Homo sapiens: one gene and its partners. The protein of the gene in region 1 interacts with the protein of each later gene in a pairwise test. Each region holds a gene or a part of one and is shown in the gene's direction. Other genes may lie near its edges. The genes, in order: EMC2, PCDHB12 and SS18L2.

Evidence for each region.
Region 2: the proteins of EMC2 (region 1) and PCDHB12 interact in binary tests that used the Homo sapiens proteins (3 or more experiments, as listed by UniProt).
Region 3: the proteins of EMC2 (region 1) and SS18L2 interact in binary tests that used the Homo sapiens proteins (3 or more experiments, as listed by UniProt).

The regions. Positions count from the first base shown.
Region 1 is NC_000008.11:108,481,574-108,485,326, forward strand, and holds part of EMC2 (ER membrane protein complex subunit 2), read left to right. Parts: intron 1-3,753. UniProt on the Homo sapiens protein: Part of the endoplasmic reticulum membrane protein complex (EMC) that enables the energy-independent insertion into endoplasmic reticulum membranes of newly synthesized membrane proteins.
Region 2 is NC_000005.10:141,207,161-141,210,913, forward strand, and holds the start of PCDHB12 (protocadherin beta-12 precursor), read left to right. Parts: upstream 1-1,558; 5' UTR 1,559-1,747; coding exon 1,748-3,753. UniProt on the Homo sapiens protein: Potential calcium-dependent cell-adhesion protein. May be involved in the establishment and maintenance of specific neuronal connections in the brain.
Region 3 is NC_000003.12:42,588,954-42,592,706, forward strand, and holds the start of SS18L2 (SS18-like protein 2), read left to right. Parts: upstream 1-1,906; 5' UTR 1,907-1,944; coding exon 1,945-2,013; intron 2,014-2,571; coding exon 2,572-2,648; intron 2,649-3,753.

The DNA.
Region 1 (3,753 bases):
TAAAATCAATTTTTACTAAATTAATAACATAGAAATAAGAATTATAACAGAAAAAAGGATGCAAGTCATAAATGTGCCTTTCAGTGACTAATATAAGGTAAATGTATCCAGGCTAATAAATATAAACATTGCAGCATCCCAAAGCTCTCTTGGTAAGTCCTCTTAATTTCTCCTTTTGTATTCCTTAAGAGTACTCACTTATAACCCTATAGTTTATGGAATCAGCCAGTATGTATTCATTTTTGTCTTGCATATTTCTATCATTATTCAGTTTATGGGATTTATCCTTGTTTGTGTCTGTAGTTCATTCATTTTCTTCTGTAGTTCATTGTATGAATGTTATAATTTAGTTATTGCTATGCATTTGGAATATTTTCTGTTTGGGCTATTTTGAATAAACTATACTGAATATTGCTGTACAGGTCTTTTGGTGGAATATATGTGCAGTTCTGTATACCTTTGAGTGAAAATATGGGTCATAGAATGTATGTATATTTAACTTTAGTAGTTAAAGGCAATTTTCCAAATTAGTTTACTCCCACCAGCGGTAAGAGTTCTAATAGCCCCACATCTTCACCAACACATGGTTCTGTCAGTCTTTGTAATTACAGCCATTCTGGTACATGTGTAGAGTGGTACTTCATGGTTTTATTTTGCATGTCCCTGATGATCAGTTGCCATTTGGATGTCCTCTTTCGTGAAATGTTTTTCTCATTGGTTTGCATGACTTATTTCTTTAGTTTTTTGCTTATGAGCCCTTTTTTAGTTATATGTATAAGCAAATATGTATAACTTCTTACTTTTTTGCTCATATGATCTTGATGAATAGAAGTTCTGAAATGAAATGTGTTCGAATGCCTCAGTCATTTGTTTGTGTTTTTTGTGTTCTGTTTAAGAAATCTTTTGCTACTCACGGTCATAAAGAATTCTGTGTGTCTTCAGAATTTCTATTCTTTTACTTTTCGTATTTAATCCACAACCCATTTGGAATTGATTTATTTTTAATTTTTAATTTTTATTTTTTTAAGACAGAATCTGGTTGGTTCTGTTGCCCAGGCTGGAGTGCAGTGGCATGATCATGGCTCACTACACCCTCAACCACCCAGGTTGAGTTATCCTCCTGCCTCAGCCTCCCAACTAGCTGGTACTGTAGACGCATGTCACCGTGCTCGGCTAACTTTTAAATTTTTTGTAGAGATGAGGTCCAGCTGTATTGCACAGGCTGGTCTCAAACTCCTGGCCTCAAGTAATCCTCCTGTCTCAGCCTCCCAATGGAGTGCTAGGATTATAGGTGTGAGCCACCGCATCTGGCCTGGAATTGATTTTTATGTATGATGTGAAATAGGGGGTCCATTGCTCCCCATATGGATATCCAGTGTTTCTGTCCATCTTTGTGTTCCATCATGAGTCCCGTCCATGGAAGCTAGTTCAATGTAGTAAAGAGAAGATTACAGATTTGAACCCATGTTGTCTGGGTTCAAATTTTGACTCTGATATAATTATTAGCTATGCAAACTTGGATAAATTACCTAACATCTCTTGCTGTATCTTTTCTTCTGCAAGATGGCCATAATGAAATATTCTGAGAATTAAAGAAATTAAAACATAAGTTATTATGTTTTTCCTTTTCCCTGTCTCTTCAGTGTGACAAGACCCCCTTGAGGTATATTGAGATATAATTTACATGTAATCAAGTGCATATATTTTAAGTATACAGTCTGAGTTTTGACAAATGTGTACATCCCCTTACCAGCCCCCCACTCAAAATAGCATTTCCATCACCCAAGAAACTTTCCTTCTGCCATTTTGCAGTCAACCTCATCCCCCACTGGGAGACAGACAAGCACTGATCTGATTTTTATCACCAAACATTAGTTTTGCTTGTGCTATAACTTTGTATAAATGAGTTCATAGGTTATGTGCTCTTCTGTGTCTGGCTTCTTTCACTCAGCATGTTTTTGAGATTCATTCATTTACAGTCCATTTCATTTTTCCTATTACTTTGTCTACCCATGTATTTTCCACAAATTATGTAAAGGTAAATTTAAGCCCAAGCAAGGTATCTCAGTTATTACAATGCATGAATCACTGACCTCTGAATTTGATAAGCAAGTTTTTATTGTTTGGTTGTTTTTGTGTTTTTTTCTGGTGAGTTTTCTTATAGATCTTACAGAGAATTATGAAAGATTTACTTAAGCAAAATCTAACTGTATGAAAACAAAAATACAGTATTTGTGAATAATGTAAAAGAGTATATAACTTTCAGAGAATGACATTCTTGATAACTAGGTAAATCTTTGGGATCTCAGTGAGAATTTCTTAATCATATCTAGGAATATAAACCGGTATAGAGTATATAATATTTCGTATGGGATTTTTCTACGTATTTATAAATTAGGGAAAATTAGGTTTCAAGAACTGCTTTTCTTTCTTTGTTTCCACTTAATGATGAAACAGAATATGGCTACTATTTGCTCGTCAATTAGGTAATTGGTTTAGCATGTTCAGTAGAAGCAGACACATTTGATTAATGCACATGAAAAACTTTAATGTGAACCTACTCACAATGATTTTCCAGATAAATCCTTCTTTGTTGCACTGGTAAATCTGTGCTAGTGATTTATATGATATTTATGATTGCAGCAGTGATTCTGTTACTATCCTTTTGGGAAACAGAAAATTAAATCATGATTTGAGGGAAAAAATGATTCTGACTTAATCAGTTAAATTGCCATACAATTCTGGAATAGACAGAATAATTGCATGTCAGATTAAATTTGAAGTGATAGATTTGTATTTCCAACTTTCTTTTATTTGTTCTGACACAAGTAAATTTATTTGGTTTATTCTAAATTGCACTGGTTGTGAGTAATGTTGACACCATCTCAGTTGACTCTTTAAAATTAGCTAATTTTAAAAGATCACACTGTATTATTTTTATGTTTAAGTATAAACCAAGAAAAATACTGTATTTAAAAATACATGTTATGGTTTTAGCTCTACATAATTTTTTTTATTTTTACTTTGCTATTTAAAAGCAATTAGAATAAATGTTACGTGGTAATGTTACTATGTGATGTCCTATTCTGTACCCCTCCCCCAACCCATAAAACTTTTTCTCAGAATTAGACCTTTAAGTATCTGATTAGGACCGTTCCTATTTATGTTTCATAAATGGTGGTAAATGAAAAAGCTTTCTGTTTCTGGTAAATCCTTGTGTAAGTGAATTTATTAACTGGATAACAGAAGTAATAAGCATGCCTCACAGCCTTTAGTCCTCAGGGGAAATTATAAAAAGACAAAATTTTAAATGTGATATTGCTGTTACCATATTTAACATATGAATTCCTTAAATTCGTGATGCCTTTTGAAAGGCAAGGTGATCTTGATTTTTATGAGAAGCTTTTTTTCTTTTTCCTCTGGCATTTCCCCTAGAAACATCCTTTATTTACTTTTTCAAATCAGGATTCAGCTACAGAAACTAATCTAATGGTTTAGAGTGTAGGAAGTGAGGGAATCATAATGTTAAGCTGTAGCCAGAGGGGTCAGAGACAGGTTACCAATTCCTGAAGCTTGTTACTTCTATGATGTTACCTGTGTTTGATCACTTAATCTTTCTGAACAGGTCATGAGAAGTTTGCCAAATTAAGTTAATTACAGAAGACAAGAAACACATCATAAATCAAGTACTAAGTGCTTAAGACAGCATTGTTACTTGAAGAAATGATCATTCACTTGAAAATGTATTGAGTG
Region 2 (3,753 bases), on another chromosome or scaffold:
TTTCCATCCTTAACTGACTTCAGTCTTCTTAAACATCTGGTTCCTCCAGATCTTGCGCTTAAAAGAGATTATGTTTCTTGTGAGTATCTTCAATGCAGGAACTTTACTTTAGGGGCACTTTTTGGAACTGCTAAGTTAATTGCTCTTCCACCTGCTTTCTGTCATAGAAAAATGTATGTGTTCACTTGTGTATTCTTAATCTTTGTTAGTTCCTACCATTTTAATTACTTTTCTGCCATTTTAGTGCATATTTTTTTTTAAAAAGAGAGGTTAATTGTGTGTGCTCAATTCATCTACTTTTCAAGTTTTACCCTTCTGTACCAATTACTATTTCAACCATGTATCCAGCTTACATTTTTAAGAATATTAATTGAATTTAACATTTTAAAATGCAGACTTGTTGGATTCTTCTCCCATCCATTCTTAGTGCACTTTAAGACTTTCTATAGTGAATATCACTGATGAGCCCTTAGCATCTGTTGCAAACAGTCTCCCTCATTTTGTACCAATGAGGTACTTTGGCTAGGACTGAAACCTTCCCAAGCTTAAGAGGTGGTCCCAGACAGGATTAAAACACAGTAATGGCCAGAGACAGGTCTTTAGATTCTAGGACTAAAATCTCCAACTATAATTCTATACCTCTTGAAACAATGATTGCTTCAGTGGCAGACACATGATCTTACTTGGTCTAATTAGAGTGAAAGTTAGGTTTTTGTTCTATGTTTAGGGATAGACTCTTACTTTCTCTTCCTGGGCTGAAAGAGAAAACAGATAGCTACAGTTGTGGCTACAATAAATTTTGGGAACCTAAGGCAAGTCAGCTTTAGGAATAAGAGTCTGCTTTAAATTAAACTAACTTGCTCATGCTTGTGTACTTATGAATTTTTTTGTAAATTATGAAAAACTGGAACTAAATGATGGGTTTACATAACATGTTCCACCCCAATCTCTTGCTTCATTTTCTGCCTGTTCACAATTCATTGCTATTAAGGAAATCTACAGAAGTGCCTTTTTATGCTGTTGTGTTGACCTATATATGCCTCATCTCATGGTTAATCCAGTTTCATAACTTCAGAAAGGATTTCTGAGATGACCTTTCCTTTACCTTATCACGTAAGGAAAGCCAAGTAGTAATAGAATTTCATTCAGCTTAACAATCACTTATACCCTGCTTGTTTCAGGCTTACAATTGTCTCAGAAACACTATGAATTCCTGGGAGCCAGGGATCACATCTTGTATCTGTGTTTACCACAACTGAACACATTTGGTTGTGAGAAGAGTGGGGAAAGACACTGAATAAATGCTTTAAAACAAAATCATCATCACAAACTATAAAGAATATAAAACGATTATTATGGAAGATAAAATATATTTTTAATTACTTCAACAGAAGGAATTATTTAAACGCAATATTTATTTGCTTCTGGAGGACATTTATGTAAATAAAATTTAGGTAGTGTTCATCAAACTGTGAAAATCTGTGGAGACGCGTGGTGGCGCTGCAGGATAATATCAAGAAAAAAATTACCCTGGAGGATGTTGTAGACCCTGTTATCCAGTACACGCGGAGAACTGGGAAGACAGAAAGAACAATCCTTTAAGGGAGAACCTAGAAGCCATTCAACAAGGTTAAAATCTTCAGGCTTCCGAGGATTTGGTAGACAGATCAGAGGCACGTTTCCCACAACTGCGAAGAGGCGCTGAGGCAATTCTGCAAGAAGATTTTGGGGTTTTGGAAAAGAAGCTATGGAAAACGGAGGGGCAGGCACTCTGCAGATAAGGCAAGTCCTGCTTTTCTTTGTTTTGCTGGGAATGTCTCAGGCGGGCTCTGAAACTGGGAACTTTTTGGTGATGGAGGAATTGCAGAGCGGGAGCTTTGTAGGAAATTTGGCAAAGACCCTGGGACTCGAGGTGAGTGAGCTGTCTTCGCGGGGGGCTCGGGTGGTTTCTAATGATAACAAAGAGTGTTTGCAGCTGGACACAAACACTGGGGATTTGCTCCTGAGAGAAATGCTAGACAGGGAGGAGCTCTGTGGCTCCAATGAGCCTTGTGTGCTGTATTTCCAAGTGTTAATGAAAAACCCCACGCAGTTTTTACAAATTGAGCTCCAGGTCAGGGATATAAATGATCACTCTCCCGTCTTCTTGGAAAAAGAAATGCTCTTAGAAATCCCAGAGAACAGTCCTGTTGGTGCTGTGTTCTTGCTTGAAAGTGCAAAGGATTTAGATGTAGGAATCAATGCTGTAAAAAGCTACACAATAAATCCGAACTCTCATTTCCACGTTAAAATAAGAGTCAATCCAGACAATAGGAAATACCCTGAGTTAGTTCTGGACAAGGCGCTGGATTATGAAGAGCGCCCGGAGCTCAGTTTCATCCTCACTGCTCTGGATGGCGGGTCCCCTCCCAGGTCTGGAACTGCCTTGGTCAGGGTGGTGGTTGTAGATATTAATGACAACTCCCCTGAGTTTGAGCAGGCTTTTTATGAGGTGAAGATTCTGGAGAATAGCATCCTTGGCTCCCTGGTTGTGACCGTCTCAGCCTGGGATTTAGACTCTGGAACAAACAGTGAACTATCCTATACCTTTTCCCATGCCTCAGAAGATATTCGCAAGACATTTGAAATTAATCAAAAGTCTGGTGACATTACTTTAACAGCACCTTTGGATTTTGAAGCAATTGAGTCATACTCAATAATCATTCAAGCCACAGATGGGGGAGGACTTTTTGGAAAATCTACAGTCAGAATTCAGGTGATGGATGTAAACGACAACGCTCCTGAAATCACTGTGTCATCAATTACCAGTCCAATCCCAGAAAACACTCCAGAGACTGTGGTTATGGTTTTCAGGATACGAGACAGAGACTCTGGGGACAACGGAAAGATGGTTTGTTCTATCCCGGAGGACATCCCATTCGTGCTAAAATCTTCGGTAAATAATTACTACACTTTGGAAACAGAGAGACCGCTGGACAGAGAGAGCAGAGCCGAGTACAACATCACCATCACCGTCACCGACTTGGGGACCCCCAGGCTAAAAACCGAGCACAACATAACCGTGCTGGTCTCCGACGTCAATGACAACGCCCCCGCCTTCACCCAAACTTCCTACGCCCTGTTCGTCCGCGAGAACAACAGCCCCGCCCTGCACATCGGCAGCATCAGCGCCACAGACAGAGACTCGGGCACCAACGCCCAGGTCAACTACTCGCTGCTGCCGTCCCAGGACCCGCACCTGCCCCTCGCCTCCCTGGTCTCCATCAACGCGGACAACGGCCACCTGTTTGCCCTCAGGTCGCTGGACTACGAGGCCCTGCAGGGGTTCCAGTTCCGCGTGGGCGCCACAGACCACGGCTCCCCGGCTTTGAGCAGCGAGGCGCTGGTGCGCGTGCTGGTGCTGGACGCCAACGACAACTCGCCCTTCGTGCTGTACCCGCTGCAGAACGGCTCCGCGCCCTGCACCGAGCTGGTGCCCTGGGCGGCCGAGCCGGGCTACCTGGTGACCAAGGTGGTGGCGGTGGACGGTGACTCGGGCCAGAACGCCTGGCTGTCGTACCAGCTGCTCAAGGCCACGGAGCCCGGGCTATTCGGCGTGTGGGCGCACAATGGCGAGGTGCGCACCGCCAGGCTGCTGAGCGAGCGCGACGCGGCCAAGCACAGGCTGGTGGTGCTGGTCAAGGACAATGGCGAGCCTCCGCGCTCGGCCACCGCCACGCTGCACGTGCTCCTGGTGGACGGCTTCTCCCAGCC
Region 3 (3,753 bases), on another chromosome or scaffold:
TTACCTCTCTGTGAAATGGGATGAAAGCAGGCCGGGCACAGTAGCTCACACCTGTAATCCCAGCACTTTTGGAGGCCGAAGCGGGCGGATCACGAGGTCAGGAGTTCAAGACTAGCCTGACCAATATGGTGAAACCCCATGTCTACTAAAGATACAAAAAAAAAAATTAGCCGGGTGTGGTGGCAGGCACCTGTAATTCCAGCTACTCAGCAGGCTGAGGCAGGAGAATCGCTTGAACCCGGGAGGCAGAGGTTGCAGTGAGCCGAGATCACACCACTGCACTCCAGCCTGGGTGACAGAGCGAGACTCTGTCTCAAAAAAAAAAGAAAAAAGAAATGGGATGAAAGCTGCCTTTTCACAGGTTTGAATAAAGGGATTGTGGAGAGAAAGCCCAGTAAAGCAGATGAGCTTGCTCAGGATCAGGGCCACCACTCAGGGGAATAAAGCTCTAGGGACCTCCCCTTTTTAGGAGTGTAGGTTCCCAAGATCTCCCTCCTAAATGAAGTGGCCGCTGCTCACTCCAGGGAAAACGAATCTTGTTACCACATCCACCACGGATGGCTAGAACAGGGGACCGGTACCGCATAGCAGGAGGTGAGCAGAGGGCGGATAAGCATTACCGCCGAGCATTCTGCCCCCTCAGATCAGCGGGGGCATTAGGATCAGCGGGAGCATTAGATTCTCACAGGAGCGTGAACCCTATTGTGAACTGGACTTGCAAGAGATCTAGGTTGCGCGCTCCTAATGAGAATCTAATGCCTGCTGATGTGAGGTAAAAGAGTTTCATACCAAAACCACCCCCACCTCCGTGGAAGACAAGAAAAATTGTCTTCCACGAAACCAATTCCTGGTGCCAAAAAGGCTGGGGACCACTGGTCTAGAAGACTACAACCAATTCAGTTGCAGTGGTCACCAGGAGTAACCATGTGGCCCAAGAAGGTATGTCCAGCTTCCTCCTTGCATCTTGCGGCACAACACCTTTGCGGTATGGTGCCTGGGCAGTCCCGGGTTGTTAAGGGTGAGAGTTCTAAAGCCAGGCTGCCCGTATTCAGAGACTGGCTTTGCTAAGGAACCTTGGGCAAGTTACTTAACCTGTTTCGTCATCTGTAAAATGGAGAAAATACCAGTGCTTTTTAGGGTTGCCAACCTAATAAGCATTATTCCTGCCCCAAATAAGTCCAGGCTATGTGGAAAAACGCGAATTTCTCGTTCAGCAAAGAGTAAAGCTAATACCAGAGTTTTCCTGGCCTGCAGATTTGGCCTGGCAGGAGACAATGCCATAGCCAATGTTCATGCTCCAGATGCAGACCTGGAGGCACAGAGTGATGTAGAGAGGACAATGGATCTGAAGCCATGTATCTGGGTGCCAGACACGCTGGGTGAAGCCGAGCAAACCGCTCCTGCAGATAGATTGAGTATGCACACCCAGCACTTTGGGAGGCCGAGGCGGGCGGATCACGAGGTCAGGAGACCGAGACCATCCTGGCTAATATGGTGAAACCCCGTCTCTACTAATACAAAAAATTAGACGGGCGTGGTGGCGGGCGCCTGTAGTCCCAGGAGGCGGAGCTTGCAGTGAGCTGAGATGCGCCACTGCACTCCAGCCTGGGCGACAGAGCGAGACTCCATCTCAAAAAAAAAAAAAGCATGCACAGCCTAACACTGGAGGTGCTGACGCCAGGTAGGTCAGCAGTAGACCCAGCCCCAACCCACAAGTTTCGCTCTCCAGACTGCGCAAGCGCAAAGGATACGAAAACGCCCCCGGCGTTCTGGGGGCTGGGACCGAGGAAAGCGCTGAGTATAGCTCTTGCGCGTCCAGTCACAAATGACGTCCCTTCTGTACCCCGCCCTGTAGGCGGGAGCATCCAATCAACTTCGAGAGCGTAGGCCCCACCTATCGTGGGTCGAGTTGCTTGGCGGTCGTGGTTCCGGAGGTTCCTCGGGATGTCGGTGGCCTTCGTACCGGACTGGCTGAGGGGCAAGGCGGAAGTCAATCAAGAGACTATCCAGCGGGTGAGCATCCACGCGGGCGGGCGGGCGGGCGGAGAGAAGTCGGGATCCCGAGGGGCTGCGGGGTGCGAGAAGCATCCTGTAGTGAGCGGCCTCCCAGCTGACTGTGAAGGGTGCTGAGCAGCCGGGGTGCGGGGTGAGATGGGCACGAAATCAGCACAGGCGCCGGGGCAGGACCCCGGCATGGGGTTCGGTCCCCCGCCGTCCAGACGTCACACTGCACTAACCCTTTCTCTCCTTTTTTTTTTTTTTTTGAGACGGAGTCCCGCTCTGTCGCCCAGGCTGGAGTGCAGTGGTGCATCTTGGCTCACTGAAACCACCGCTTCCTGGCTTCAAGCGAGTCTCCTGCCTCAGCCTCCTGAGTAGCTGGGATTACAGGAGCGCGACGCCACTCCCGGCTAATTTTTGTATTTTTAGTATGGGGTTTCCCCATGTTGGCCAGGCTAGTCTCGAACTCCTGACCTCGTGATCCGCCTAGATCGGCCTCCCAAAGGGCCGGGGTTACAGGCGTGAGCCACTGCGCCCGGCCTGCACTGACCCTTTCTTTCTCTGATCTTTCAGCTCCTTGAGGAGAATGACCAGCTGATCCGCTGTATTGTGGAGTATCAGAACAAGGGCCGCGGGAACGAGTGCGTGCAGTAAGTACCCCCACCCCCGCGCCCCTGACCTGTGGGTAGAGGGGAAGCCTGTGTGATGCGGTGCTTTCTCGAACTAAGAGTCTTGGGTGATTGATCGCAGTTAAGCCCCTCTTTGAACTGAGGAAAGAGAGGCTCAAAGAGTTTGCCAACCTGCCCAAGACCATACAACGAGTACACTGCGGAGCCTGGAGTCAGACGTGGCTCTTTCTTCAAAATGTGAATTATTCTCACTGCAAAGCCTCCTTCACTCAAAGCTATGCCGGCTGATGACAACAGGGATGGGGGTGAGAGCACACAGAAAACTAAGCTCAGGAGATTAGAGCCATGGCCCCTTTCTCATCTTGGATCCCTGCCTCATCCTTTCTCTGTTAAGTGAAGGGGTCAGGCCATTTGACTGCTAAGCTTCCTCTCATTTCTAACTTCCCGTCAGTCTGTTAGTGACACACACACAAAGACAAACAAAGGATTTACAAGTTAAGTCAAAGGTAAATTGTGCATAATAATTTAATGCACTCCCTAAGTAGATACCAAAATGAGAGAAAATAGAGTCTGAGTCTCTTTTCCGAATCTAGTCCAGGTATTACGCCCATTTTTTTCTTTTCTTTTTTTTTTTCTTTTTGAGACAGTCTCCCTCTGTCACCCAGGCTGGAGTGCAGTGGTGCAATCTCGGCTCACTGCAACCTCCACCTCTGAGGTTCAAGCAATTCTCGTGCCTCAGCCTCTGAGTAGCTGGGACTACAGGCGTGTGCCACCACGCCCTGCTAATTTTTATATTTGTAGTAGAGACAGGGTTTCACCATGTTGGCCAGACTGGTCTCAAACTCCTGACCTCAGATGATCCACCCACCTCGACCTCCCAAAGTGTTGGAATTACAGGCATGAGCCACCACGGCCGACCTTATGCCCATTTCTTATAGAAAAATATATTATTTCATTGTTACTGAAGAAATGTTTCACAATCCCTACCCCCTAGAAAAATTACCTACAGTCCCTCACTGAATACCTTAATAGAATAGTAGAGATATCAGTTTTTGGGTAAATCTTTACATCTGACTCTGGCATTTGGTAATTTGATTTTTAAAAGTTTATGGTAAATACCTTCTCC